Linked DNA regions of Homo sapiens: all the other regions are linked to region 4. Evidence: fine-mapped expression QTL. A gene starts in region 4. Each other region holds a variant in brackets. All regions are shown on one strand. Distances are from middle to middle. Region 1 has its middle 8.1 kb from the start of MIR3679. Region 2 overlaps MGAT5 (alpha-1,6-mannosylglycoprotein 6-beta-N-acetylglucosaminyltransferase). Region 3 overlaps MGAT5 (alpha-1,6-mannosylglycoprotein 6-beta-N-acetylglucosaminyltransferase). Region 4 holds the start of MGAT5 (alpha-1,6-mannosylglycoprotein 6-beta-N-acetylglucosaminyltransferase). Region 5 has its middle 44 kb from the start of MGAT5.

The links.
Region 1: its variant is fine-mapped to the expression of MGAT5 in whole blood (INTERVAL, PIP 0.92).
Region 2: its variant is fine-mapped to the expression of MGAT5 in whole blood (TOPMed, PIP above 0.99).
Region 3: its variant is fine-mapped to the expression of MGAT5 in Th17 cells (Schmiedel 2018, PIP 0.95).
Region 5: its variant is fine-mapped to the expression of MGAT5 in whole blood (TOPMed, PIP above 0.99).

What each region holds. Positions count from the first base shown.
Region 1 is chr2:134,131,983-134,138,396 of GRCh38, forward strand. It overlaps a transcript of MGAT5 not described here. Among named protein-coding and RNA genes, the nearest start is that of MIR3679, 8.1 kb to the left of the region's middle. RefSeq lists enhancers at 1,610-2,232, 2,233-2,854, 2,876-3,045. The variant G/A (reference allele first, on the strand shown) is at 3,419.
Region 2 is chr2:134,322,350-134,328,763 of GRCh38, forward strand. All of the region lies in intron 4 of MGAT5 (alpha-1,6-mannosylglycoprotein 6-beta-N-acetylglucosaminyltransferase), which reads left to right. Among named protein-coding and RNA genes, the nearest start is that of MGAT5, 71 kb to the left of the region's middle. The variant A/C (reference allele first, on the strand shown) is at 2,840.
Region 3 is chr2:134,272,670-134,279,083 of GRCh38, forward strand. All of the region lies in intron 2 of MGAT5 (alpha-1,6-mannosylglycoprotein 6-beta-N-acetylglucosaminyltransferase), which reads left to right. Among named protein-coding and RNA genes, the nearest start is that of MGAT5, 22 kb to the left of the region's middle. The variant CT/C (reference allele first, on the strand shown) is at 2,909.
Region 4 is chr2:134,251,851-134,256,850 of GRCh38, forward strand. MGAT5 (alpha-1,6-mannosylglycoprotein 6-beta-N-acetylglucosaminyltransferase) reads left to right here and starts at 2,222. Exons shown (of 16, transcript NM_002410.5): 1 at 2,222-2,794. The coding sequence starts at 2,554.
Region 5 is chr2:134,206,935-134,213,099 of GRCh38, forward strand. It overlaps a transcript of MGAT5 not described here. Among named protein-coding and RNA genes, the nearest start is that of MGAT5, 44 kb to the right of the region's middle. The variant C/A (reference allele first, on the strand shown) is at 2,057.

The sequences.
Region 1 (6,414 bases), 120 kb before region 4:
GGGTTACCTGAATCACCCACTGGCTGACCTGTAGAGATGTGTAAATCATCCATGGTTGTTGTAAGCCACTGAGTTTGGGGTAAGTTTGCTATAGAGCAGTGGTTAACTGATGCACAGCTCGTATCAGATGTTTGAATAGTGTAGAAAGTAATTTTAGTGTCCTTTTAAAAATCTTTTTGTTAGTTACTTGTAACTAATATTCTTTTAAGATTGTACTTAAGTTCAAGAACTTGGCCATTGTATCTGCCCCTTTTTCCCTTTTTAGAAAACCATTAAAATCCTTTATATTTTTACCAATTACACTCAGAAACAGACTAGTTTTCCTTTCTGAAACTGTTTATCTTGTAATATGGTGGCTTTTGACCCCACCCTGGAGTAAGAAATACATGCTGAATCAGAGCTCACATATGGAAGTAGGTAACAGTAAGAAAAGTTTCATAAAAAGTACTTAACCTTTATCGTGGCCTCTGGTGTTTTCTATTTTGTCCTATTTCATTGTCTTAAAAAATTTTGGTCAGAGGTCAGGCGGCACGTGACTGGCTGCCTATTTTGTAAATAAAGTTTTATTGGCACATACCCAATCCCATTTGTTCTTCTGTTGTTTATGGCTACTTTCACACTACAATGGCAGAGGCCAGTGGTTGTGACTGATAAGAGATGACCTGGCCTACAAAGTCTCAAGTATTTACTCTCTGGCCCGAGAAGAAAAAGTTTTCTGACCTTTGCACTGAATGGATTTCATAACCCATCAGTTAGTTGTGACCTTCTGTTTGGAAGACCCTGTTCAAGTGACCCTTTGGTCTCCTCATACCCTTGTAGAAATGACAGTGAACACATGTGGCAGATGTGAAAACTCACCCTTCTCTGTTTACTTGGAATCAACAATTAGGTCCTTGCCATCTAACATTACACCCGATTGGCTTATATAGGAAACTTTTCAAGCATTTCTAAATTGTTTCATTATAAGTAGTGTTATGCCCCCCCTTCTTAATTTATTTTTAAATAAGGCTTTCTAGTGGAAACTAACTGGAATTAAAATGGGCACAAATTCCATTCAAGTGCTAGTTATTTATTCATTAGATCCCGGCAGTGCCTTTTTTGGTGATATAATGGAGTCCATTAGTGGGAAAGGCAAAGAAACAGTGATCCTAGCTTCTCTTACACCACCTTTCTGGCAGCTGGGCCTTATTGCCACATTTCTGAATTAGGGTGGTATTATATCTGAGCAGAATAAAATTTAGAGACATTAAATCATGGACTTCTGTGGTTGAAAAGACTTTGGAATTTTTTTAAAACTCAGATTTAATTGGCTCCTTAAAGGCCAAATTTCTCCAATACCTTCATTTTTCCAAGCCTGTCAAGAAAGGACAACATTGTTATTTATGTTGCATGGCTCATGGGATTGATGAGAAAGAGCTGAGGCAGAAAAACTTCAGAGGGATCTGGATATGTCTTTGTAGAATCTGAAATGCCAGGTGAAGGATGGTCCCTGGCCCATTTATTTATTGTCAGTGAGAATGGAATCAAAATAAATGAGCTTAAACTACAGCATGAAGAGCTTAGGTAAAATCTGAGAAAAATCCCCCAAATAGGGTCCTTTTATTGACATTAGAATAGGTTATCCTGTAATCTTAATAGATTCATTGCACACATCAAGTCAATATGTAGAGAAACTGGGTTGCAGCAGAGAAAGGTTTAATCAAAGGGCCACCGAATGAGAGGGGAGGAAACCTCAAATCCATCTCTCTGAGGAGTTTGGGTTAGAGTTTTTAAGGGTTTTGGAAAGGGGCAGGCTTGGCGGTTGTTGATTGGTCGAAAAATGCAGGGTGAACATGGGACAGGGAGGTGAACCACCTGCATTCTCATGCTGATCCGTTCCTCTGTGGGGGTCTTCAAACTGGTTGTTGGCATTCAGGGTCTGAAAACATTTTAAGCCATCCTTTAAAAAAAAGACCTTATGATACTACTGTCAGAGATCCTGTCTATAGGAACAATGGGGATGCAAATCAATTCCTAAACTGTCTTAGGACCCCAATATCAGAAATCCTACTCATAGGAACAATGGGGATGCAAATGGCCACTATCTAGTGCTATGTGACTTTTAGCAACAGGGAAGCGGGCCAAGGTGCAGCCTGACTAGTGCTTCATTGTAACCATATTTCAGTCCAGAACCTGGCATGCAATTCTTATCAACCCTGTGGGGATGGTTTCACTCCTAAGCGTTTTTGATGTTAGCTGCTGCCCTTTGTTCAGATGGATGGCTGTCCTTCTAGGTGGTTGGATGCCTTTAATTAATAAAGATTCTTCTGGGTGCTAGCAACAGAAACCTGCCAGACCTTGCTTCAGTGGAAGGAGAGAACTCACATTAGGAACACAGGAATAGGGTCCAGGAGCCCCCTGCAGCCTGGGATCGAGGCTCTAGGAACCCCACAAATCCTTGTTGCTCTCCTTTCTGCTTCCATGTGTCTGGCTGCTTAATTCTCCTCCCTGCCTATTCTGCTTTTCCTGTCCCAAGGGCAGAACTCTGAGTAAGGGGATTTGTTACAGGGTGTAAGCCACACAATAAGGCTGATCTTTCTTTTGTAATGCCAGTTCTGGTTTTCCCTCAGTGCCCAGCTTGAGATCACCCAGGGGTGGGCAGGGCGTGGTACCTGGAGAGAGGACTCTGGTCTAGTCCCAGGCCCTACAATGTTATTGGGGGCATATCAGCAATTTGGGGGGGCAATTTTGATTGTCAGTGATTGAGGAGAGCTACTAGCATTTATTGGTTGGGGACCAGGGATGCTAAACATCTGTAATGGGTAGCACAGTTGTGTATCACAAAATGTTTCCTGTTACCCACTAGACAATCATGGACAAGCAAAATCTGAACCTAGACCTAACTTAGGTATAAGCAAATAATCGTTGCACATTTTAAGTAAACATCGACGTTTCCAGTTAATGAAGAAAGGTTGTGCTTTCTTTTGTTAGGAAATTTACCATTTTGGAAACTCATGTTACCTGTAGAATTAGCACATCACCTGTATCAGTCCATCTTTGTAGCTGACATGACACATTTTAAAAATTTCACATTAAAATGAAGGCATCTAATGGCTCCATTATGTCTTTTAGAGTGGTCTGGCCCAGCTAATTGCATATTGAAATACATTAGATTTGTCATAAATTACTTTCCTTTATTGTCTTTTCTGTCAATCTTAGGACATTAAATGTATATGTTTGAAATTGTGTTTAGGTAGGTTATCTGAGCATTTGGTTCAGATAGTAAAGAGAGTGTTATAAGTTCACTGTAAGCCCCAGGGGCTTTGGGACTGATAGGGTTTAGAACATTGCACTAGGGGAAATGAATTGTAAAGTAATGTTTTTTCTCTAGACTAATGATTCAGCTGAATTAATACTTTTAATGTGAAGCATTTTTAAA[G/A]AAAGCAAACCAGCCTGGTGCGGTGGCTCACACCTGTAATCCCAGCACTTTGGGAGGCAGAGGCGGGCGGATCACGAGGTCAAGAGATTGAGACCATCCTGGCCAACATGGTGAAACCCTGTCTCTACTAAAAATACAAAAATTAGCTGGGCATAGTGGTACGTGCCTGTAGTCCCAGCTACTTGGGAGGCAGAGGCAGGAGAATTGCTTGAACCCGGGAGATGGAGGTTGCAGTGAGCCGAGATCGCGCCACTGCACTCTAGCCTGGCAACAGAGTGAGACTCCATCTCAAAAAAAAAAAAAAAAAAAAAAAAGAAACCTTGGCCCACATGTGGGGTATAGCAGAAATAGAGATATTGGTCCCATAGTGCTCCTCCCCGAGCCACAGCCATGGGTGGTGGACTGTCCTTGTTGTACAACCTCCACCCTCCCATGCATACAGGTAGTTTTTGGCTCTTGCTGGGCCATGGCTCCCGTGTAGGTCTCTGCATTATTCTGGAAAAACTGCAGGAATGGAAGGTAAAATTAGGTTGTCACATGAGTTTCATAACTGCACAAGGTTTCAGGGAAACCTGTGAACTTGCATGGGAAAATATTACACTTTCATTTTCCCTAACTTCTAGCCAAAATTTGGCAATTCTTTCACTTTGGAAGGTTGGACATAAGTCACAGTAGTATTAGTGCTGTTTGTGACTTTGTCACCAATAGAAATCTAATATTTTCATGTCACATTAGAGATGATTAACAGGTGTGTTGAAATACCAGTATTCATCACCACTTTGAAATTACGGTGGTTGTTGCACCTGTTGCTAGATAGTATTATTTAATGTGTTAAGATACAAGCTGCAGGTATTGCCATTTACCAATTAAAAAAAAAATTGGGGGGCCAGACGCGGTGGCTCATGCCTGTAATACCAGCACTTTGGGAGGCCGAGGTGGGCGGACCACTTGAGGCCAGGAGTTTGAGACCAGCATGGCCAACATGGCAAAATCCTGTCTCTTACCAAAAATAAAAAATTAGCTGAGCGTGGTGGCGGGTGCCTGTAATCCCAGCTACTAGGGTGGCTGAGGCAGGAGAATCACTTGAATCCCAGAGGCAAAGGTTGCAGTGAGCTGAGATTGCACCACTGCACTCCAGCCTGGGCAACAGGGTGAGACTCTGTCTCAAAATACATGAATAAATAAAATAAATAAATAAATATAAAAAATATTTTGGTAACAGTATTTCAATATCATTGATTTCCTCTGCAGTCCTGTGTATTTTATTTTATGCATTAAAAAAGTCTTTCTGAGAAGGAGTCCATAGGCTGCCCCTAGTTTGCCAAGGGGTACAGTAGAATTGTGGTGTGTTCTAGACCCTGCACACCCACTGCTCCCCTTTCCCTCCTCTTCATCAAGAGTTGACCTCCTCCTGACTTGGGCTTTCTCCAAGGCTGTCAGGTGCGTTTGTAGAGTGGGTGTGGGCTTATCTCCAACTTTTTATCTTAGACCTGGTCAAAGAATTGAGCTCTATTCTTGGCTCACTGGTTTATCATATCCAGGGAGGCAAGTTTGTCAGAACGTTCCTCTAGCAAGGCCATATCTGTCACTACAAGGTATGTGATTCATTTAAAGCCAAATGTCCTAATTATCTGAATCCTAAACAGAAGTCTGATTTCAGCTTCAGTTTCAGTTTTTCAAGTGGAGAAAACCCACAGACATTCTGCAGGAAAATGCCCTAAATACACATTAACCCCCTGTTTTCCTCTTGGTATGCTTTAAGGTTATATCATCGACAACAGCACTCTAAGAAATAGGTCTCTGCCCAAGAAATATGTTGTGCACATGGTTGCCAGGGGTGTTTTCCTGTTGGCGTATGGCTTTGGACAGAGGGGCATCCCCTAGGAATTGGGGCTTGGCTTGGAGGTAGTCAGCGCCATAGGAATGCACTTCCTCTTGGCTTCCCGCTTGCCACTCAGTGAGTCCAGCCCAGAGGGTGCTCTGCCGCTGCTGTACCTGGATTTCTGAGAGTGGAGTCAGCCCTTTTCTGTTTCTGGAAACTTCTCTTGATAGGAAATGACTCTGTCCACAGAAGAGCTTATTGTACTGCACCTCGTCAGGCTGCAGACTTGAAGTCATTGCTGTGCTGCCATGGGCATCTCTTTCCACTTGTAGCTATATTTAGAGCATGAAAATGCTGAACATTTCCTTCCTGTTTCTTTAGAAGTCAGAGCGGGGAGGGATTTCTTGTATTCAACACAAATCCCTCGGATAACCATATGAAAAGATAATGGGAATAATAATTTTTCGTTCTTTGTTTAAAAAAATATTAACGCTGAAGCTTGGACTAGAATAGTCTCTATTTTTTTTTTCTGCTTCATTTTTCTATGTTATTGGTCAGTTTTATTATTGAGGCAGTTACATTACATTATATTCTTACTGTTTAAAGATAATGTATTTGTATTTAACAAGTTTATCAATGAAGGGATAGCATCTCGCCTTTCTTTTCTTTTTTTTTTTTGCAAATGGAAATAGCAAAGTTATGTTGCTTTCTGAGTCACTGATTGATATTACAGATTTGTGTTCAAGATTGTTGGCACAATTAGGCCTGTTTTTTTTTTTTTTGTTTTGAGACAGAGTCTTGCTCTCTTGCCCAGGCTAGAGGGCAGTGGCGCTGGTCACTGGTCACTGGTCTCAAACTCGTGGGATCAAGTGATCTTCCCACCTCAGCCTCCCAAAGTCCTGGGATTATAGAGGTGAGTCTGACCTAGGCCTAATTTTTAAAGTGAGATACCTAACATAATTTTATTAAGAAGCTGTTCTTCTATCATTGCCCTTTTTTTTTTGGCTTGAGAAAGCAAGAAATTCACCAAATTTACTCGCTAAGAGTTAGTGATTCAGTCTGTAGGATCTCTGACCACTCCCCTCCCCCACTCTGAACCACATTCACTCAGACTGTTTCATATTTTAATCCTACTTTGTGGAGAGCATAAATAAAGTCCAGAAGGTCTAAAGTG
Region 2 (6,414 bases), 71 kb after region 4:
GTTTCCCTTAATGCCTATTTTTAAATTGACAACGTTTGTATGTATTCATGGTATACAACTTGGTGTTTTGATATGGGTCTGCATTGTGGAATGGCTAAATCAAGCTAATTAACATGTGCATTACTTCACATACATATTTATTTGTGGTGAGAGTATTTTCCCTTGATTGGTCATTTCTGGACATGATACTTGGGTTTGCACTGGAATTAGCTGCACGTATGGACCCAGTGCACCCTACCATTGTTAATGTGAGATTAGTAGAGATGTTTTGTAAAACCGATTAATTCCTTTTTAGTATTTTTAAAATCCTGGACAATATCTGTGGCTTTGTAGGAGCTGTTGGTTCACTTGTGTGGTTTTATTCTTTCCTGCTGTCTTGAAACTTTCCTTATTCTGTTATTTAAGTTAACTCTGAAACCTGCGTTTTTATTTCCTGTATCATCTAGGTTTCTCTTGCAACTGGGGAGATGATTGAGAGAGACATCTTCATTTGAGTTGTTAATGTGATCAACACATGCACCAGTGACTTTTATTCTATTCCTAATCCTTATTGAAAGAGCCAGTTCTTGTTTTGATCTATGTTTAACATCAGAGCTTTAACAGATGCCAAAAGGACATGAAGTAAAATGTCTCTTGTATAGTCAGTCACTAGTGGAATTGGAGCATTTAGATTCAGACCTGTCTTAAGAGATGGTACTCTTCCTTCATTTTTCTTTCTTAGGGTTGTCTCAGTTCACCAGCTTCCGCTGAGTTATGGGATTAGAAACTTCTGTTAGTACTTTCACCCTCACCAACTTGTAGTCTATGGATCTTTTTTGGTTAAATCCCAGGAAGAAAAGCCATCAATATTTTTCCTTAAAATACCCCCACAGCTGTTTGTTATATGTCTGACGCTGTACTAGAGATGGTAGAGATAAAAGCTGAGTGGTTGCCTTTCTTTAGAGGTGGGACTTTGGGGCAGACAAGAGAAGAATGAAAGACTATTGATGCTCCACTGTACCAGACACCTCAAATACAGAATAACTCCATTTTATTTAAGTGACTTCAGCATCTGAGGATTTTAATATCCACAGGGGTCTTGAAACCAGTCCCCAACAGATACTGTGGGTCAGCTATACACAATCTTATTTAAACCTCTTGCCAACTCTAAAGAGTAATGGAGAGCCAAGTCATAGATAGCTCAGAGAGGTCAAGTCGCTTATCCCCAAAGTCCTGCACTTTTTGTTCCTGCTGTCTCCTTTATGATGAAGGAAAACGGATCTTAGGTAGCTAACTTGCAGCCATTGACTTTGCATTCAGTTGTATGGTTAAATCCACTTGTGATGGGAAAATGGCTCTAATTTAGCTAACTTGAATGAATAGATCTTCATTGCTAGTTGTCTAATACTCCATAATTTCGATACCCTACGCCTCCAAAAAAACACAAACTCTCTTGCTGCCATAACTCATGAAAACCAGGTGTCAGCCATTCCAAGTGGTAGGAATGAGCAAATGATTCATTAGGCAGCCTTGTATTTCCAGAACATCAGGCAGTTCATTTTCTGTATCTGTTTTCGTGAGCCATGTAACTACTCCCATTACAGAGACAGGGCCCTATAAAGTAATTACTCTGAATGTCATTGTTTCAGGTATATTAACTTAACCATCTGCAGAGCCTTTTACTGCTATCAGCTTTTACAAAATTTAGAATGAATTTCTTCATCTCTGTTGATATTATGTTGATAGATGATACTGATGTATTTGACACTGGCACTTTTTTTTCTTTTTAAACAGTTGTTACAGAACCTAGGAAGCATCATACCTTTCCAGAGTTCCTAATTTGTTTATGCTTTTCTTGTATGCACTTCTGTTGCCATTGCAAGTAGAGTTGCTCTGAAATAATCAAATTGCCCAGTGATTGATTGCTAGATCTTAGGATGTGTGCAAGCTATTGCTTCAAATGCCAATTTGGACTAGATGCATGAGAGTGTGTCTATGACTCTTTCACAAAGGAGCAAAAGAAGCAGTTTCATGCCTTACTTGTCAATCTAGTTCTTATATTTCATAAACAACAGACGTAAAGGTCTTTGCTTCTTTCTGTTCTCCCTTGGCAGTATGTAAAACTAATATTGGCTGAGCATGTAATTAACCTTGAGTTTAAATTCAGCATACTTAATCCCTTGATTAATGCTAAGATTAATGCCCAACAGGAAAGGTTGAAAGCTTAAATGTTTGTGAATGCGAGCATGAAATGAAATCCTAATAACCAGTACAATGATTTGGATTTATGAGCTGTGTTGGCTGCTAAAGATAACTTGGAAATGGTGTTGCACAGACTAATTTGTCAAAGTGGGCAGTGATAAAGAATAGACTGCTTAGGTTACAGGACAAAACCTGAATGTAAAAACAACTAACGTTTTGGGGTGGGTCAGGGAGTACTTTAAAAATATCACCGGATTGTTGCCCGAGAATACCAACACACACCCTTCAAATGTTCAGCCATTTGAAATGGGAAATTCCTTTTCCTCAAGATAATATTTCTGGGCAGTAAAGGAGGTGGCAGAGATTTATGATCATGTTCTTTTCACCTTCTCTGTTCAGCCTTTATTGGTATCTTTTTCATCTGTATATATTTGTTGCTCTTACTACCTGAGTTCTAAGACATCCTTAGTAAAAGAATTTAAAAAAAAAAAAATCCTGAGTTTACAGAACAGTATTTGTTAGTCAGCCTAACTGATCTGTTAGTTTCTCCCTTTAGCCCCTCACCCACTAAAGTTCTTAGCAACACTTCCTGTTTATGAATGTTATATACCACAACATTTATATTTAGACTTCTTGTTCTGGCCTCCACTCTACAAAA[A/C]TCAGAAGGGCAAAGGACAAGACTTGCCAAAACCCAAATCAACACTTCTTTGACTGCTTCTTGGAACACATGTGGCAGGATGGGGCTTCAATGCTGTCATCTCCAATTTGTTTTTTATACACATTTAAATATCGTCTCATGTAATTTCTATTGTATGACCCTAAAAATACTTTTAAAATTATGTTTTAAACTTTTTAATATGCAAAATTTCCAGCATGTACTACAAAAGAGTTTAACAAACTCCTGTGTGCCCGTGATCCATATTCAACAATTGTCAATCCATAGCCGGTCTCATTTCATTTATAACCTCCTCTGCTTCATTATTTTAGGACAAATCTCAAGCATCATATCATCTGTTTCAATGTGTATCTCTAAAAGAGACTTTTAAAACATACTGTACAACTATTCTCATTATAACTGCTAATACTATTTCACACCTGAAAATTAACATAATTCCTTCACATCAGATTAGTATTCACATTTTCAGGCCATTGTATAAATTAAAGTTTATTTATTTGAACTGGGTTTCCAGTAAGGACCCTAAATTGCAATTGTTGATGTCTCCTAAATCTCTCTTCATTTTAGGTTCTCTTCCGTCTCTTACTTTTCCTCCTTCTAATTTTTTGTTAGAGAAACTGCTTCATTGCCTTAGAGTTTGTCTTACTCTGAATTTTGGTTACAGCCCATGTTGTTGCATAACCTGGCTCTTTGCCCCCTTGTATTTCCAGTAAAGTGATAGCTAGCTCTGAGGTTTGATCAGAATAGTGCCTAATATTGTTTGTGCAAGTTATTTCATGGATAATGGTATTATATACTTGAGTTGGGAGGCACATAATGCCTGATTTCTCTTTCTCTCTCTCTCTCTTTTTTTTTTTTTTTTGATGTTAGCAATCATTGATCAGTGCCCAGGTTCATTAATTCATTAAAGGTACCTTCTTAATATATCAGGAATACTTCTGTGCAGAGATGTGACTCTTCATCAGGTATGTGATCACCCTAAGAGGAAATTCATAGAAGAAACCATTTATTTCCCAGTTCATTTCCTAGAATTTCCAGCTTTTCTTCTTTTTGCTTGCTTGCTTTTTGTTTTTTATTATCGTTATGTAGTAATGGATTAAAACATTTGAACAATCCATTGCAGTTATTTTCTTACTGATTGTCAAGTTGCCCCGCTTTGGCCAGTGAGGACCTATTCATACTGCTTTCTCAGACCTTTTGACATGACCATGGTAGTTTGTAATAGTTTTCTTGTTCTGTGGTATGCCAAGATCTTCCAGATTCATCTCATACAGTTCCTGCCCTAGGCCTGGAACCAGCATCTCTAAGAACCATCTTGCTCCCCCGGCCTGCATACCACCCCAGTTTCCTTAGAAATAATGCTTAGGGGCCACAACCTGAGTGCCAAGAGCATTAATTGCTATTGATTTTTTTCTGGCTGCTGGAGATGTAACAATGAATAAACACTCCTCATTATGGTTGTGTTATGTAAGGAGAGATAGCTAGCAACATCAAAAAAGTAAGATGTATCATCTAGATTGTAGTGCATGCCTGGGGAGAAATACTAAAGAGAGGGCAAGAAGTACTTATGAGAAGTGATGGTGTCAGTTTTGGATAGAGTGGTCAGGATAGGCCCTACTGAGAAGGTGAGAAAATGATGTTGGACCATATTTGAAGAAAGTGAGGGAGTAAGAAGTGCAGATATCTGACAGGTGTTTAGCAGGCAGTGGGAAGAGAAGTGCAGTCGCCCTGGAGTGACCATTAACACCTAATGTTAACAACAAGTACAAGCAAAGTCATCTCCACAGAGAGTTTTGTCTGTTTTGTTCTCACGTACAATGATGTCTGGCACATGGGTTTATTGAATGAATGGTTCTATCTGAAGCATTTTTTAAAATTGGCTATAGTTTTTTGTTTTGAGTGGGTAACTTCTAGCTCTAACCCTTCCGATCTTAAAAAAAATGTTGTAAACTTTGTAACATTAAAATCCGCTAAGACATTTGAGTTGAGACATGAAGCAGGGGCGTTTTGAGCACTGATTAACACATTTAATATACAGTAGTCCTCTCTTATCCATGAGGGATATATTTTAAGACCCAGTGGTACCTGAAACTGAGGGTGGTACCGAACCCTCCATATACTATACTTTTTTCTTCTTCACAATGTTATGGCTTCTCTTTGGCATATCTGAATTGCCAGCATCATTACTCTTGAGCTTTGGGGCTGCTATTAAGCAAAATGAGGGTTTATTGAACACAGGCACTGAGATACTGAGACAGTTGATCTGGTAACATAAAGGCTACTAAGTGACTAATGTGAGTGGGTTGTGTCTATATCATGGATCCCCTGGACAAAGGAGCTGTTCCAGCCCTGGGCATGATGGAGCAGGAATCACAAGGTTTCATCAGCTACTAAGAGCATTGCGCAATTTAAAACTTTTGAATTGTTTATTTCTGGAATTTTTTATTTAATATTTTCAGACTGCAGTTGACTGTGGGTAGCTGAAATATTAGAAAGTGAAGCCGTGGATAAGAGAGGACTACTGTAATGCTCTGTAATATTATGAGAACATACAAGGGCTCAGATAGACTGTTAGAATGGAATGAGCCAATTGTATTAGAAGGCACAGCTTTCTTGCCCATTTTTTATTTTCATTGTCACTTAGCATAATTGCACATTAAACACAAAAAAAGAGCTATATCATTGTTGCCTAAAATATGACTACCTCTTAAAATTGAGTGACTTTAGTTGTCAAAATGTCCTTATGTGGATACAGACCAGTTGGGACCAGTTTTGCCAGCATCCAGTGGGAGCTGTGCCTAGTGAGAGTTGCTATAGAAAGTATCTCTATGCATTATCTGTTTGGTTGGCTACAGAGGAATTTATTTGCTGCTTCTCATGTATAAGGGAAAATTGGCCTTTCTCCTCTTAGAGCAATTTGGGATGGATTATTGAAAGTGTCTTATCCTCTTGTTAGAACCCCACTGGTTTTGTGGCACACTGAACACTTACTACAACATCCCTTTAAATTCTGCACCCCCCCTCACCCCTGATATGCTGAGCAGAACTCTCATGGATCCCTCTGGCCCTGTACTCTGTCTCTTGCAGGTAGCCAGTTCTGTACTTTGTGTTAATAATATTCCTCCCTGTCTTGTCAGGGGGCAGCAGTACAGTGTTAGAGGAAACACACAAGACCTGATTTGCTGTCTGGATCCCACCACTTCCCTATGTGGCTTTGAGCTTTCCCTTGAGTTTTCAGTCTGGTTTCTCCTCATTGAGGTCAAGATAAAGTCTGCTTTGCCTCCCTCAGTGTATTATTGAACGGTTCCAATAAAATGAGAACAGTAAAGCGCCGCGTAAGTGGAAAAGAGTATCATTATCATGAGTCTCTTTAGTGCCCAAGTCATGCTTTTTGATTTATTCATTCACTACTTAACAAATACTAATTGGACATTACCTGTGTGCCAGGTACTGCTTTCAGGACTGGAGATAGAGTGAGAACCAGACAGATGAGGTTTCTGTCCTCAAGGAGCTTGCATGCAGATGGGGCAGCAAACAATAAAATCAGTATATAAAAG
Region 3 (6,414 bases), 22 kb after region 4:
CTTAATCTTCTTAGCATCTCTGAGAAGGGTTTTCACAGGTTTTGTTGAGTTTAAGTACTTGGGAGTGGGTGACTGTTGGTACTGGAGTCCCCTGAGCTCAGCTTCAGATCTGCTAGTGCTATGTAGAGAAGAGATTCTGAGTGTTAACTCCATCTCTCCTTCCATTTGTAAATTATCATAAAGGCATGTGTCTGTAAAAAGATGCTACCATTTTCTTACCTAGAAGAGAGCTGCCAGTTTCCTAGATTTAATCATCTGTCTCATTAAGGATTTCTCTGTCTCAGTGTCTGCTCTCAGGCTAATGTTTGTAAAAGCTGGCCCGTGTATGTGTGTGTGTGTCTGTGTGTGTGTGCGCGCGCGCGTGCGCGTGCATGCATGCAGAGGCATCCCTTTCATAGACACTGTCTTGGCCAAAGTGGATATAGATATGCTGGACAGCCTTCTTCATTTCCCCCAGAAGGTGGGGGGGGGTCCTTTATATCTTGTCAGTCAACTACATATTTTTAAAAAACGATTTGCCATGTCTATAGAGTACCAGAAAGAAGGACAAGGACTTAAGTGAACAGTTCTCATTTATGAGCAGCCCTTCCTTGCTTTTCTGCCCTCTCTCTGATCCATAACCATGCTGATGTCTTCAGACCCCTCTGTCAACCCAAGAATGGCTCCTGAGCTGTGAGAGTTCAGTTTTATGGGGTTCCAATCCTCGCCAAGTAAAGTTTTTCTCTCTCCCTTCCTGAATGGAGACATGCGGTAATTGCTCAGAAATGTTCTCCCTGGTGTGTCTTTACAGCTGACTCTGGTGTCTTATTGCTCACTGATGTTTCTGATTGCTTATTGTTGTGTCTTATTGCTTGCTAATATATCTTCTGGTTGGCTATAAACTGTCTCTAAATTGGGTACCATAGCAATTGAAGAAGGATTCCCTAAATTTATTTTCTTTAGGGGGATAGCTCTGTGTGTGTGTGTGTGTGTGTGTCTGTGTGTCTCCTTATTTTTTCTCTCTAGCTGTGTTCTGTGTAGCTTTTATCCAGTATGGCTTATCTTCACAAATTTATCACCGAGGGTTTTTTAATGTGAAAGTAAATTTGCCCCTAGGGAAATTTAGGTGGAAATGAGCTTTATTAAAATCAAGAAATCAGATTGAACTGGATTTTTGAGCTCTGTTTGTCTTGTTGAAGAGAAAGGGGACTCAAAGGAATGAAAAAGCAGATTTTTAAAATCCCCACCCTTCCACCAATCACACAGTAAATTAATTTCTCCATATTCACTTTCTGAAAGGGCTTGAAGGGCCTTCGTCAAAATTCTCTCCTTTTAGAATGATGCTTTGAATTTTAGAAAGACCCATTCTGTCTTTCTCTAGTTTTGTGATCTTAAGTGAGGAAGTGGAGCGAATAGGATTGGATCTGTGGTTCTTTGTCATGTACCTGAAATGGGGAAAAGGTAAAAAGTATACATATCTGATCATGAAAATGCTTGCCTTCTAAGGACTGAATGTCTGATATATCTTTGTTCTGCCCATAGTGTCTTGATTGTAGCCTTACCTGTTGAAGATAATTCAGTAAATATTGCTCACATGGATTGGTTTCTATTGGAGGGAACAGCATTTGGTTTCACCACCTGGAAGAGTTTCTTCTTATAGTTCTTCTTCTCAATTTACATTTGTGGTGATTTGCCTAGAAGTCGGACTTGGTATTTCGTTTCCCTAGTTCTCAGACCTTAGCAGACACCGCCTAAGAAGTGGGACTGCCTTTTTTGTTGGTCAGGACTGAACTTCCCATCAATGGTTATGGGATGTGGAGGCTTCATAGGATGTGATAGTTACAATCCTAGATGTGATAGTTACAATCCTAGATTGTGATACTTTAGAGGACAAGAACATTGTGTAGCTCTCTACGGGGTAGTGTATGTATGTGCATGTGTACACATTTATTTATACTCTCAATAAAGAGTTGTCATTCAAGGTCAGCTGAATAACTGGCCAGTGCTGACTGTTCCTTAAAAGCCAAAACCATAATGATAGCATCCAAGTGGTGTTGTGATGACTTAATAATTGCAAGGTCACTTGGGAAGCAGAACCACAAAATCAAAGGTACAGGTATAACTCAAGCGACAGTTTCCTGGTATTTAATCCAAGTTGAACTTACAGCAACCCTGCATTTTTTCCAAAGTGGGGAGCGATATGCAACACTTTCTAGTATTTGGGGTTGAAGTGCAATGTATTTGAATTTGGAAGCTGTTCTTAAAAACAGCAACCATTATTATTATTCTTACCATTTGAAAGTTGAAAATGAAAAATGTCCCTGCTGAGTTCCAGGGCTTGCATTTGGAAGTGCAATTTCCCCCTCTTTGTGCTGCTAATGGACCTTGAAATTTAGTTGTACCTGTGCTCTTTCCTTGTATGTGTACCCATGTCATCAGTTTGTGTTGAAGTAGCACCTGAAGTGTCCCAGCTCCACCCCTGGGCAGTGGCTCAGCAGATGACTTTCCCAGGGTCAGATACTGGTATGTCAGTGAGATCCCAGATGCTACTGAGAGACGGGAGAGAGATGAGATTGCAGGTGGCTTCCTATTAAGTTGAGCAAGAAGCAAATATGTTCTGTCTATCTACCTGTCACTTTCTGTTTTGTTATTTGCAATGGTAACAATAAATATGTGGACCCTTGTCAGAAGCTATTCTTTTGGTATCTTTACAGAAAAATGCTTGTCTTTGTTGGTATGGTTTTCACTTTGTGTGGTCAAGGATATTTTGTTTTTATTTAGAAGAAGAAAGACAGTTCAGAAGTGATGGTGATCTTTGAGGAAGTGAATTTATAGCAGTGATTAACAGCTGTGGGCGATTTTGCCCCCAGGGGACACATGTCAATGTCAGGACACATTTTGGTTTTCACAAATGAAGAGGTGCTATTTC[CT/C]TTTTTTTTTTTTTTTTTTTTTTTTGAGACAGTCTCGCTCTGTTGCTCAGGCCAGAATGCAGTGGCACTATCACAGCTCTTTGCAGCCTCGACCTTCCATGTCCCCACCCCCTGCCGCCTCAGCCTTCTGAGTAGCTGGGACTACAGGCAATGTGCCATCATGCCCGGCAAATTCTTTTTTCTTATTTTTTGTAGAGAATGGGGTCTTGCTATGTTGCCCAGGCTGGTTGGGCTCCTAGGCTCAAACGATCCTCCCACCTCAGCCTCCCAAAGTGCTGGGATTACAAGCATGAGCCACTGTGACTGGCCTATTTATTTCTAATAGATGAGGACAAGAGATGCTGCAAAAAGCATCCTACAATATATAAGACACTGCCCATAATAGAAGTATCCAGCCCCAAATGTCAATTGTGGCAGGTTTGTGAAATTCCGATCTATGAGATACTGTTAGAATCTGGTGCCAGCAGATATTTTCACCTATGGTTAGTGCAGAAAGACGCCTGAGACGCTGAAGTTTCCTGATTGCCAGCTGAGACCTAAAGTTCCTTTCCCTTTTCCTAGCAAGGCTGTTCACAAGCCCCCCCACCCCCGCCGCCCGCCAATCTCCACCTCATTTAGCTTTGCCACTGGTCTTGGAGGCCTCCAAGGAAAGAGATTTTAGAAACTCCCAGAAGACTATTTTAGGATCCTGCCCTTAAGGAACTCCTTTCCTGGCCCACAGTGTGCTTTTGGCAATGTACATTTTACTTCTGCTTCTATAGAAGGTAATTATTTCTTCTCGTGAAAGGACCACTAATTCCGGATAACAATGGTACAAAGTAGTCTTAGAGAATGGGTTTAAATTGCAGAATGTTTTAGAAGAAATTCTTTGTTATTTTAAGCAAAGTATATAATTATCAAGATATGAGAGAGTAAATTAAATAAGTTAAAGAAAACAAGACAGGTCCCCAAAGATCTACTTTACATCAGAAAATACCCTTGACAGCATACTTGGAGCAATATTGAAGAAAATGAGACTAGAGAGTTAATTGGGATTTGTGATGCATTTTCAATGTTAAATGAAGGAGTTTCTATTTTGTTCCCTGGGCCGTGGCAGTTGATGAGAGGTTTAAAGTAGGAGGATGAATAGGTGTGAGGTCTGTATTTCCAGAGAATAATTATGGGCCATGTGGAGTGAAATGCATATGAATGGGTGAGAGAGACTGCATTTAATCTTCAGTTAGGAGGAGAATGCCCTGGGTTAGAGATGTTCCTATGGCCCAGGGAGAAAGAATTTGAGACCCACGTTAGGGTGAAGCTGGTGTTATGGGGACACGGACAGACCGTGGGACAGGGCAAGGGAGAATTTGTCATAATTATTTCCAAGGGTGTAGCTTGAAGGATAGCTGGGTGACTCATTATTGAGGAAACAACCCAGCAGAGAGACAAGGTTCCATGAGGACTGTAGCCACAAGCCATTTGTTTCAGAATATCGGTTTAAAGGCAGTTGAAACTTTGATGCTAGTGTTGAGGGGATGAGGGACAATGAAAGGCAGCATCTGTGGAACCAGACTGGCTCGGTTCAAATACTGGCTCCACCACTTCATAGCAGTGTGACTTTGGGTAAGTTTCTTAGCCTTCCTCTGGCTGAGTTTCCCCATTTGTAAAATGGGGGAAATAATAGTAGTGTCCATTTCACAGTATTGTTAGGAGGTATATTAGTCCATTTTTACAGTGCTATAAAGATACTACCTGAGACTGGGTAATTTATAAAGAAAGGAGGTTTAACTGACTCAGAGTTCCACATGGCTGGGGAGGCATCAGGAAACTTGAATCATAGTGGAAGGGGAAGGAAGGCACGTCTTACATGGCGACAGGAGAGAGCGAGCGAGAGAGCAAGGAAGTGCCACACTTTAAAATCATCTGCTCTCCTGAGAACTCACTACCATGAGAACAGCATGAGGGAAACTGCCCCCATAATCCATTCACCTCCCACCAGCTCCCTCCCCTGACATGGGATTAAAATTTGAGATGAGATTTGGGTAGGGACACAGAGCCAAACCATGTCAGGAGGATTAGGTGAGACCAATAACGTTCTTAGAAACATGCTTGGCATAAAGTCAGTACTGTATGAGCATTTGTTAATTACAGTTTAAAAGTTACATATTTGGAATATTGACATAAAAATGGAACACTGTAGTGACTTCTTATTTGGATATCACCACTAATAGTGAAATTAATATGTGTATAGTGCTTTATAGATTAGAAAATAATTTTGTATATAGTGTTTCACTGGAACACTTTAAATTTGAAGTTCCCAAATTGATCTTTTTGTGCCTCTGTTATCAATATTTAGCTCATCACGAAATTCATGTTTTGTCAATAATCTCTTGGTTGCAAGAGGCCAACCACTTAGCTTATATTAACTTAAACTAAAAGGGAACTTGGGGCTCATGTCATTTGAAAGTTTGTGGGATGCTGTTGAGAGGTTCAGACATGGGAGCCATCTTTAAGAACCTCAGCTGTGTCCTCTCAGGTATTGGATACTGTCAGAAGCCATTTCTTTTGGTATGTTTACCGAAAATTCTTCTCATTGTTGGTATAGTTTTCACTTTGTGTTGTCAAGAGGGTTTTGCTTTTTATCATTAAGAAGAAAATACAGTTCAGAAGTGATGCTGTCCTTCAAGGCTATGTTAATATGTTCTGTCTTTTATTTTGCCTTCATTCTTAGGCCATCTTTGCATGGTGAGGGCAGAGATGGATGGTCCCAAGGAGGCTCTAGGTTTTAGTTTTCAGTCCCAGACGGCTGTGCTGCTTTCCAGGAAGTTTTGGCAACTCTCTAGAGCAGGGTCATGATTGGCTTGGCTTGGCCTCTATGCCTATTCATGATCCAGTCAGAGTGACCAGTATCATGTTCCATCCTGATTGGCTAGGCCTGGGTCACATGGGTCACCCCTGGGAATTCATGGTATAGGAGAGGGTCCCTGAAGAGATTTCAGATGAGCAGATAAAATGCATATGGCTACTAGAGACCCTGGTCATGTCATGGTTTGGCTTTCTGGAGCTATCCTAAACCTGACTCAAGCTTTTCTCTCCCTGAGTGTTTGGAGGGCAAAGCCTCAGGACTGCTAAATTTCTGCCTCCATTTTAAGCACTACTGTGGCCAAATGTGCCTCAGCCCCACTTGGAACGAGCCCAAACCCCTGCCTGCAGTTTATTCATGCTCTTACACACTTAACATGTTTTTGTCCACAGCCTGGCATGCTTCTGTTGTTCTGGCTGACTCTTCTTTACCACTTTTTTCAAGTCTCATTTGAAGCTCTGTCTCCCTAAGACTTGCTTGATGCCCCTCACATCCCAGAGGTTTGTGATGTCCTTGCCTTGTGTTCCTACCATGTGTGTCCTTGGACTTTTCCACTCTTTGCTTGTCTTCACAGCCAGTCTGTAAGCTCCTCAAAGGCATGGGTGGGATCTCATATTTTTCTTTTCAGTTCAGTGCTGAGCTTGGAGTCTGGCAAATCACAGG
Region 4 (5,000 bases):
CTCCTAAATGTAACTTTTTACCCATTGACCACTCCCTCCTCATCCCCCTCTCTCCTCCCCACCCCTGGTAACCACTGTTCTGTTATCTCCTATGATAGCAACTTTTTAGCTTCTGCATGTGAGATTGTACGGTAGTTGCCTTTCTGTGCCTGGATTATTTCATTTAGCATAATGTCCTTCGGGTATATCCCTGTTGCTGCAAAAGACAGGATTTCTCTCTCTTTTTCTGGTTGAATAGTATTCCATTGTCAGAGAAGTGTTGTAAGACTAGGAAAGGAACACTGCAGGCTGGAGCCCTGGGGAAAGTGGTCTGAGGCAGGTGGTGGGACTAGAGCTGGGGTCTGGCAAACAGGCTGGGTTTGATTGTCAGCATAATAGAGAGCACTCATGTGCCAGCTGGGTGGGAGGAGCAGCCGAGTGAAGAAGGGGAAGCCTCTCAGGAAGCATGTGCAGGGTTTATGGTAATGAGCAGACCAGCAGGTACGTAGTGGGAGAGGGGTGTGATGGGGCAGAGGAACTTACGTTATGATAGTACAAGACAGAGGTTGAGCCTCATTTTAATAGGCATTGTGGTGGGTGTTGAATAGTGATGGAATGTATGGGTCTGGAATCAGGCTGCCTGGTCAAGGGCTCTGAAACATGAGTGTGCATCAGAATCACCTCGAGGCTTGTTAAAGGATAGGCTGTGGACCACATCTCCTCAGTTGCTGATTCAGTGGGTGTGGGTGGGGCCTGAGAATTCACATTTCTCACTGGTGATGCTGCTGTTACTGAGTTTGGGACCACATTTGGAGAACCACTGGTCTAGAATTGAGAGGTTGGCAAACCTTCTCTGTTAAGAGGTAGATAGTAAATATTTTAGGCCTTCTGGGCTACAAAGAGTATCTGTTACATATTTTTTATTGCTTTTCATGACCCATTAAGCATATATATATCATTCTCTGCCATATACAAACAGGCTGTTGGGGGAGTGAGGATGATGTAGGGAAGGTGGGGCATGGTTTAATAACCCCTGGGCCATGCCTAGATGATCAGTCCTCTGCCACATAGCTGGCTGACCTTTGCCAAGTTAATCACCTTTTACCTTTATTTTCTCATGTTTCTAATAAAACAGAGACGATAATATTCATACTTCTTACCATATAGAACTTCTGAGGATTCAGTGAGCAAAGCCACAAAAGATGGTATGTCACAATATCTGGGATATAGCTAGAATTTATAATTTATTTTTACTCTGTTGATAGGCAATGGGAAAACAGTAAGAGGCAGACCAACAGTGATCCAGGGCTCTGAAAGCTAATTGCTTCAAGATCCTGCTACCATTTTCTTTTGGGCCGCTTGCAAAGAAGAATCCTTTGACTGAAGCATGTATGTACACTCTGAAGTACAGCCTGGGTTAGTCTCTTATAAGGGATCGGATCATTGCTCAGCCTCTCCCTTGAGTGGCACTTAGAAAATGGCGCTATTCGTAAGCTGACTGGTATTGGGCCCAGGACTCTGGCTGAAGGGGTGGGCATGCTGGTAACCATTTGCAACCTATGCTCAGGTCCTACTTGTTGGGAAGCCCTGATTGAGAAGAGTGGCCTGGTCTGTGCTGGCATTAGATAGGATCTGGCTGCATTAATATTGAAACTACTCTGCCTTTTAATGTCTCATTTTGCCTCATGGTGGGAGTGAAAGTGAGAACCACAGAAAATCTGCCTGCCAGGTGTTCCACATTTCTTGTGCTACAGCATGCAAGTGAGCAGTGAGGTGTACCTTTTCCTCATGTAGCTGGGAAAGCAATACCCCTGCTTGTACCTCTGGCATATCTTCTCTGTGCTGGTGCACCTAGAGAGGTTGCCTGGTGGCCCTGAGAGAGCCATCTCATCACTAAACACTGATGGTGAAAGCTGGCCATGCTCAAATAAGATGTAGCAATCTACCTCTTCTTTGTCTAGTTACCCCCAAGGGGGCATCCACTTTCTTGCTCACCTCACCAGTTGCATGTTCTAGTCCTTGCCAGAAGCACATAATAATGACTTTGTAAGCTTAAGTTACAGGCACACAAAAGGGCCTGATGGTGATATGACTCCACCCTCCCCGTTTTTGCTGACATTCCGCCAAATATCCTTCTGTCTCCTCCCCACCTTGCAAAACAAACTTCCTGTTTTGAATTTGGTCCAGGCTGGAACAGCCCCACTACACCTGTTAACACACGCAGACGCACACTTCCCCCTTCATAATTGCTTAGCTTCTTGTTGCCTAGCCAGATTTCCCCTCAGCTTACAGTTCCTGAATCATAAGATATTGAACCAGCAAATTTAAGAGTTGACATTTTACTTAGAGGTATTCAAGTGAAAACATGGCTTCTGGTTTATTTTGCTGTATTGTGCCATGACCACTTGGCTAATTCTTCTCCTCCTTCACAGCAGAATGGAAGTGAGGAAAGGCAACCAGCTGACACAGGAGCCAGAGTGAGACCAGCAGACTCTCACACTCAACCTACACCATGAATTTGTGTCTATCTTCTACGCGTTAAGAGCCAAGGACAGGTGAAGTTGCCAGAGAGCAATGGCTCTCTTCACTCCGTGGAAGTTGTCCTCTCAGAAGCTGGGCTTTTTCCTGGTGACTTTTGGCTTCATTTGGGGTATGATGCTTCTGCACTTTACCATCCAGCAGCGAACTCAGCCTGAAAGCAGCTCCATGCTGCGCGAGCAGATCCTGGACCTCAGCAAAAGGTACATCAAGGCACTGGCAGAAGAAAACAGGAATGTGGTGGATGGGCCATACGCTGGAGTCATGACAGCTTATGGTAAGCACTGTTTCTGGGACCTCTCCATTAAAGTGTGCCTTGGCCTTGAAATGGCCCTAGAAGCTCCCAGATATGGTCTTGTCATGGACTGAATGTCCTTTGCCACTGCCTTCATAAGCAGTGAATTGCACACAGAGAGGCATCTTTAGGAAATTAAAGCAATGCCATTTTGGGGGTTCTGAGCTGGTGTATGCAGACACACTTTCCCCTGGAGTCAGTGGGTTAGTATAGTTAGGGCTCTATTGGTTGTGTTTGCAGCTAGCTCCTTCTCCCTGAACACATTTCAGGAACCATGTGATCTCATGTGGGAGTGAGTTCAGGGAATGCTGAAAAATATTCTCATCTTTCCCTAAACAAAACTTAATTAAGGCTGGTGGGGGTGAGGTGAAGAGGATGGGGAGGAATGTTCTATGGAAGCCAGTAAACTTAGAGCCAATTGTGTTCCTCCCTCCAGCCAATAAATATGACACTGGCACTTGCATGCTGGTGAGTTTTAACCTTTGGCTTCTTGAGGTTATGTTGCTCTTCTTCTTGCCCTTGTCTCTAACTGCCCTCACTTTGAAAGGAATCTTTGTGTACTTGTTGCTTTTTCTTTAAAGAATTTTTTTCAGAATTCTTTTTGAAATCAGAAAGAGTAAAAAAATACACATATGGGATGTAACTTATTTTTCTTTTATGTTTAATATAGAAAAAGTTGGAAGCTGTAGACAAGCAAAAAAAGAAAAAAATTACACATAAGTCTACTACTCCAGGCAATAACCACAATTAACATTTCAGTGTGTATTTTTCTGATACTTTGCATACACACACAAATATATATATACATATATATACATATATACATATATATACACATATATACACATATATATATACACACACATATATATATACATACACATACACACACAAATACTTGGAAAAAAATTGCAAATGGAATTTAGATCATGCTGTGTTTTGCAGAGCAGACTTGGTCTGTAGAAGATGACCTGTTGTTGAGTGACAAGAGTCTGATCATTGAATTGAGGTTTCAGTGGTCTCACTGAAGTGGTCTCCCTGATAGTATAGATGAGATGCAAGAATGGGGTTAGGTGAGGTGGAGAAAGTGGAGTTGTGTTTTGTGACCCACTCAAGGAAGGTGCCCTGAAGTATGCCGATTTCAAATCGTGATTCCCAAAAATGTGCAGCAACAGTTCAGTTCAGTGCAGGTTGAGTTCAGACACAGGAAATCATACTCAGTTATACATGTGCTTCTTTCTTTCCAAAAGGGGAAAAAAACTTGTTTTTAAAAAAGTATGTAAAATTTTATACACACGTATGTGTATGTGTGTGTGTGTATGTGTATATATTAGAAGATGCTTACTTCTGAGGAACATTTTAGAAATTCTTTTCTAGTTCTTACTATGTAAATAATCACACTCTGCATTTAATCTGTTAAAAGTGTCTGTAGGCATTGGCTTTTAATATATCTAAAAAAATGGTACCTTTTTTGAACTGATGGATTTAAAAAATGAGATTCCACTGTGGGAGCTTACACTGAAAAGTAACTAGGTAGTTTTTCCTAGAGTTGCATTTTAAAATTGCTCATTGACTCACATTTGTGTAACATTTCCAGAGTAGTTTAGATAAACCAACAGAAAATAAAGCTGATTGTCACCATTAGTGTTACCAATGTATATGACACAGCAGGTAACACAGGTGCAGTTTTAAAGTTTCTGGTTGTATGCATTTCATGTTACAGCTTTGAAGGGAAAGAGTTACAGCTCAGTGGTAATTTTCTCTTGTTTCTCTCAGTCTGTCAAACCTTTTCCATGGGCAAGAAGAAGCCCCACAAATAGCAAATTTATAGGCTTTAAATTTCTGCAGTTGTTTTGGCTGTTTGTATTTCTTGTGTATTGATGAAAATCTCATAGGGAAGGCTTCCCCACATTTTAAAGGACAATAATTTGGTCTTAGCTTTTCAGCCTCACAGAAATATTATTTTTTAAGTTACAAAAAAATCCCAGAATAGGCTGTTAGAATTTCAGCCACCTTATATGCCTGTAATCATAAGACTTTGCATCTCAAAGAAACTATAGAAATTATTTATTCCAACTTACTTTCGTAGATGAACCTTAGCAAAATAATTTGTCTTTTTCTCAAAAACAACAAAGAAACAATCAAACAGGTCACATCAGCAACTCTAACTGACACTGCTAGTTTTCTC
Region 5 (6,165 bases), 44 kb before region 4:
AGAAGAGTTTTCTGTTGTTTTAAGCCACTAAGTATAGGTAATTATTAATGACAATTTGTTATAGCAGCAATAGGGAACCAATACAGAGTCTCACTGGGCTAATCCAGTGTCAGCAGGACTGTGTTCCTTTCAGGAGGCTCTTAGAATCTGTTTTCTTGACTCTTCCAGCTTCTAGAGTCTGTCCACATTCCTTCACTCATGGCTTCTTATGTCTTCAAGCCAGTCTTTGACACTTTTTAGATAGTGATTCTTCTGCTTCCCTCTTCCGCATTTAAGGACGCTGTGATTGCATTAGACCCACCTTGATAATTATCTTAAGGTCAGCTGATTAGCTACCTTAACTCCATCTGCATCCTTAATTGCCCTTTGCCATGTAAGGTGTAACATACTCAGATTCTGGGGCTATGACAGAGACATCTTTAGGAGCTGTTATTTTGCCTTAAAAAGGAGGCAATTATTTAAGTATATAAGGTGAATAGTTAGGTCTTTCTCTCCAGGAAACCTAACTTGTCATTCAGCGGTTACCATGCATGGGTATCTTCTTCCAATTGCCTGAGCCAGCCAGACTTTCATGTTTGAGCATTCAGATTGGGCTTTATTTCTCAAGGCATGTGGCAAACCTCACAATGACACTGAAAGGTTAAAAAAAAAAAAAAGAAAAATACAGTTGCTTACCAGAGATACTGATCGTTTACTTCTGCTAGGATCAGAAGAGATTTTAAGAGCTTAGTGGCAAATCCTGACCTTGGAAAGCCCTGCCTTACCAGGGGTCTTGTGCAGAGGTGTTATTGAGATCAGACACCAGGTTGCAGTGATATGTATCATTTGTGCTCTTGCCATCTACCGCCCCCTGCCTGCCACCAAGCCAACCTCAGGAGGTCTTTGCCCAGAGGCTTGGCAAGATGACTTTCCACAACTCAGGGAGGTTTTAAGGAGAGGGATTAGCATTGACTCTGATACCTTGTTGGTTTGTGTGTCATAACTTAAAGGTCCATGCTTCTCAGCTGGCCAGTGGTCACACCTGATTGGAAGGTGAAAAGACTTTGCGTTCTACTTCCAAAAGTTTTCACATTTGTCACACTGTCCTAACCCTATCAGCTTTGTTGCTATCATTGTAGTGAGGCCTGCCTAGGGATGATAAGTGAAGGATCCCCAAGGACACATTAAGACAGCACATAGAATCAGAGTTTTCAGACTCTTGGCCGAACTTTTTTTTTTTTTAAGCAGACCAGTATTTTCCAAACTTTGGACTTAGTTTCCACCATATTCACGTTACCACCTATACTTGTTACTTAACATATTTTCTTCAGTTTATCCTGCATCAACTCATTTATTTTAATTTGGTCTCATTCTAATTGACAGCATATAGCAGCTTATGAATTTGATGTGCGTATGCATGTTGCAACAAATACTTAACTATTAGTATGTATGCTACGGTGTAAATGTACCACACTCAGAAAAAACCTTATTAGACCATCCTGACTGTTTAGGAAGCTTGGTGCCCAAGGGAAATAGTCTTTGACCATCAGCCAGAATTTGGTTAGTTTCAGCAGATAAGAGAGTAGCTGGTAAGCTACTTAGGAACATTTTAAGTAGAATATGTGAGAAATGAGGATAGGATATGCCTTTATTCCCAGCAGGCAAAAACATGCATTTATTTACTATAGTTGTTATAATATAAATAACATAGATGCATATGTATACCAGAAACATGGTCTTTATCCCATTTGTGGATAAAAGCTAAGGAAGAACTTGTATTACTTATGTATGAAATGCCCAAGGGAACAGAGCCTAGACAAGTTCTGAAACTTAATATCTAGGGAATGTAAACATTTAATAAAACATTACCTTACCCACCTATGTGGCCTTTCTTGGCTGGACTTCTAAAAAATTTTGTTTTTATACCATATTCTTTGTTTTAGGAAAGCATTATCTTACTCCCAGCCTCTGGGGAAAATAAATAACCGAGAGAATCAATAAGGAGATGCCCCAGTGTTGTGGTCAGTGTCTGTTTTTCCCCAGTGTTCTGGGAGCAGGGTTTCCTGGTGTTCTGTTA[C/A]ATCAGCATGAAGGAGGCCTTGTGCATGGGAAGACCCAGACCTCACTTCCCCTGTGTCACTTGCAGTCACTTGTCTTCCTCTTTTGTTTTTGTGTATTTACCGGGGATGAGGAGGTGGATGGGCAGAGGGATTGTATATAGAACTGGCTTATTTTTTTTTTATTTTTTTTTTTTTTTTTATTTTTTTTTTTATTTTTTAATTATTATTATTATTATACTCTAAGTTTTAGGGTACATGTGCACATTGTGCAGGTTAGTTACATATGTATACATGTGCCATGCTGGTGCGCTGCACCCACTAACGTGTCATCTAGCATTAGGTATATCTCCCAATGCTATCCCTCCCCACTCCCCCGACCCCACCACAGTCCCCAGAGTGTGATATTCCCCTTCCTGTGTCCATGTGATCTCATTGTTCAATTCCCACCTATGAGTGAGAATATGTGGTGTTTGGTTTTTTGTTCTTGCGATAGTTTACTGAGAATGATGGTTTCCAATTTCATCCATGTCCCTACAAAGGACATGAACTCATCATTTTTTATGGCTGCATAGTATTCCATGGTGTATATGTGCCACATTTTCTTAATCCAGTCTATCATTGTTGGACATTTGGGTTGGTTCCAAGTCTTTGCTATTGTGAATAATGCCGCAATAAACATACGTGTGCATGTGTCTTTATAGCAGCATGATTTATAGTCATTTGGGTATATACCCAGTAATGGGATGGCTGGGTCAAATGGTATTTCTAGTTCTAGATCCCTGAGGAATCGCCACACTGACTTCCACAATGGTTGAACTAGTTTACAGTCCCACCAACAGTGTAAAAGTGTTCCTATTTCTCCACATCCTCTCCAGCACCTGTTGTTTCCTGACTTTTTAATGATTGCCATTCTAACTGGTGTGAGATGATATCTCATAGTGGTTTTGATTTGCATTTCTCTGATGGCCAGTGATGATGAGCATTTTTTCATGTGTTTTTTGGCTGCATAAATGTCTTCTTTTGAGAAGTGTCTGTTCATGTCCTTCGCCCACTTTTTGATGGGGTTGTTTGTTTTTTTCTTGTAAATTTGTTTGAGTTCATTGTAGATTCTGGATATTAGCCCTTTGTCAGATGAGTAGGTTGCGAAAATTTTCTCCCATGTTGTAGGTTGCCTGTTCACTCTGATGGTAGTTTCTTTTGCGGTGCAGAAGCTCTTTAGTTTAATTAGATCCCATTTGTCAATTTTGGCTTTTGTTGCCATTGCTTTTGGTGTTTTGGACATGAAGTCCTTGCCCACGCCTATGTCCTGAATGGTAATGCCTAGGTTTTCTTCTAGGGTTTTTATGGTTTTAGGTCTAACGTTTAAATCTTTAATCCATCTTGAATTGATTTTTGTATAAGGTGTAAGGAAGGGATCCAGTTTCAGCTTTCTACATATGGCTAGCCAGTTTTCCCAGCACCATTTATTAAATAGGGAATCCTTTCCCCATTGCTTGTTTTTCTCAGGTTTGTCAAAGATCAGATAGTTGTGGATATGCGGCATTATTTCTGAGGGCTCTGTTCTGTTCCATTGATCTATATCTCTGTTTTGGTACCAGTACCATGCTGTTTTGGTTACTGTAGCCTTGTAGTATAGTTTGAAGTCAGGTAGTGTGATGCCTCCAGCTTTGTTCTTTTGGCTTAGGATTGACTTGGCGATGCGGGCTCTTTTTTGGTTCCATATGAACTTTAAAGTAGTTTTTTCCAATTCTGTGAAGAAAGTCATTGGTAGCTTGATGGGGATGGCATTGAATCTGTAAATTACCTTGGGCAGTATGGCCATTTTCACGATATTGATTCTTCCTACCCATGAGCATGGAATGTTCTTCCATTTGTTTGTGTCCTCTTTTATTTCCTTGAGCAGTGGTTTGTAGTTCTCCTTGAAGAGGTCCTTCACATCCCTTGTAAGTTGGATTCCTAGGTATTTTATTCTCTTTGAAGCAATTGTGAATGGGAGTTCACTCATGATTTGGCTCTCTGTTTGTCTGTTGTTGGTGTATAAGAATGCTTGTGATTTTTGTACATTGATTTTGTATCCTGAGACTTTGCTGAAGTTGCTTATCAGCTTAAGGAGATTTTGGGCTGAGACGATGGGGTTTTCTAGATAAACAATCATGTCGTCTGCAAACAGGGACAATTTGACTTCCTCTTTTCCTAATTGAATACCCTTTATTTCCTTCTCCTGCCTGATTGCCCTGGCCAGAACTTCCAACACTATGTTGAATAGGAGCGGTGAGAGAGGGCATCCCTGTCTTGTACCAGTTTTCAAAGGGAATGCTTCCAGTTTTTGCCCATTCAGTATGATATTGGCTGTGGGTTTGTCATAGATAGCTCTTATTATTTTGAAATACGTCCCATCAATACCTAATTTAATGAGAGTTTTTAGCATGAAGGGTTGTTGAATTTTGTCAAAGGCTTTTTCTGCATCTATTGAGATAATCATGTGGTTTTTGTCTTTGGCTCTGTTTATATGCTGGATTACATTTATTGATTTGCGTATATTGAACCAGCCTTGCATCCCAGGGATGAAGCCCACTTGATCATGGTGGATAAGCTTTTTGATGTGCTGCTGGATTCGGTTTGCCAGTATTTTATTGAGGATTTTTGCATCAATGTTCATCAAGGATATTGGTCTAAAATTCTCTTTTTTGGTTGTGTCTCTGCCCGGCTTTGGTATCAGAATGATGCTGGCCTCATAAAATGAGTTAGGGAGGATTCCCTCTTTTTCTATTGATTGGAATAGTTTCAGAAGGAATGGTACCAGTTCCTCCTTGTACCTCTGGTAGAATTCGGCTGTGAATCCATCTGGTCCTGGACTCTTTTTGGTTGGTAAACTATTGATTATTGCCACAATTTCAGAGCCTGTTATTGGTCTATTCAGAGATTCAACTTCTTCCTGGTTTAGTCTTGGGAGAGTGTATGTGTCGAGGAATGTATCCATTTCTTCTAGATTTTCTAGTTTATTTGCGTAGAGGTGTTTGTAGTATTCTCTGATGGTAGTTTGTATTTCTGTGGGATCGGTGGTGATATCCCCTTTATCATTTTTTATTGTGTCTATTTGATTCTTCTCTCTTTTTTTCTTTATTAGTCTTGCTAGCGGTCTATCAATTTTGTTGATCCTTTCAAAAAACCAGCTCCTGGATTCATTGATTTTTTGAAGGGTTTTTTGTGTCTCTATTTCCTTCAGTTCTGCTCTGATTTTAGTTATTTCTTGCCTTCTGCTAGCTTTTGAATGTGTTTGCTCTTGCTTTTCTAGTTCTTTTAATTGTGATGTTAGGGTGTCAATTTTGGATCTTTCCTGCTTTCTCTTGTAGGCATTTAGTGCTATAAATTTCCCTCTACACACTGCTTTGAATGCGTCCCAGAGATTCTGGTATGTGGTGTCTTTGTTCTCGTTGGTTTCAAAGAACATCTTTATTTCTGCCTTCATTTCGTTATGTACCCAGTAGTCATTCAGGAGCAGGTTGTTCAGTTTCCATGTAGTTGAGCGGCTTTGAGTGAGATTCTTAATCCTGAGTTCTAGTTTGATTGCACTGTGGTCTGAGAGATAAGAACTGGCTTATTTTTAACATAACAACATAAAACCCCGTAAAATGATCAACTTGATCTTTGGGTTGCCTCTTGCCCAGCCTTGGGAAAATGTTAAATCAGAGCTCTCTGGAAATTTGGGACAGCTCCAACTTCCTGAAAAATCAAGAATCGAGTTTTCCATGGAAAATGGTGGGAAGAGGTTGGATTTCCCCATACTTTCAGTCTGTTTCCCTCTTCTTCATTGTATTCTTGCACTTCTCCAGAGATAATCCTCTATTATTCAGTTCCAGTGTATCCAACTATTATCTTCCAGAGAGAGGGAAGATATCAGTAAGACCTTGAGACTTGCTTGTCTCCTGAGTGATGGCGTAAGTGAGCCAGCTTGAATGCCGAGCTTCACTGGGCATAGAATGCTGATTTGCTGAAGTTGATGCGTGTGGGAAAATGTTTGTCTCATCTTCTCCTTGACATTGAAATACTGTTTTGCTGTTTGGAAGAGTCAGGTCTGCATAGGCCTTTTGGATATTTGCATTTTATTTTCAGGAAGTCTTTGCTGCTG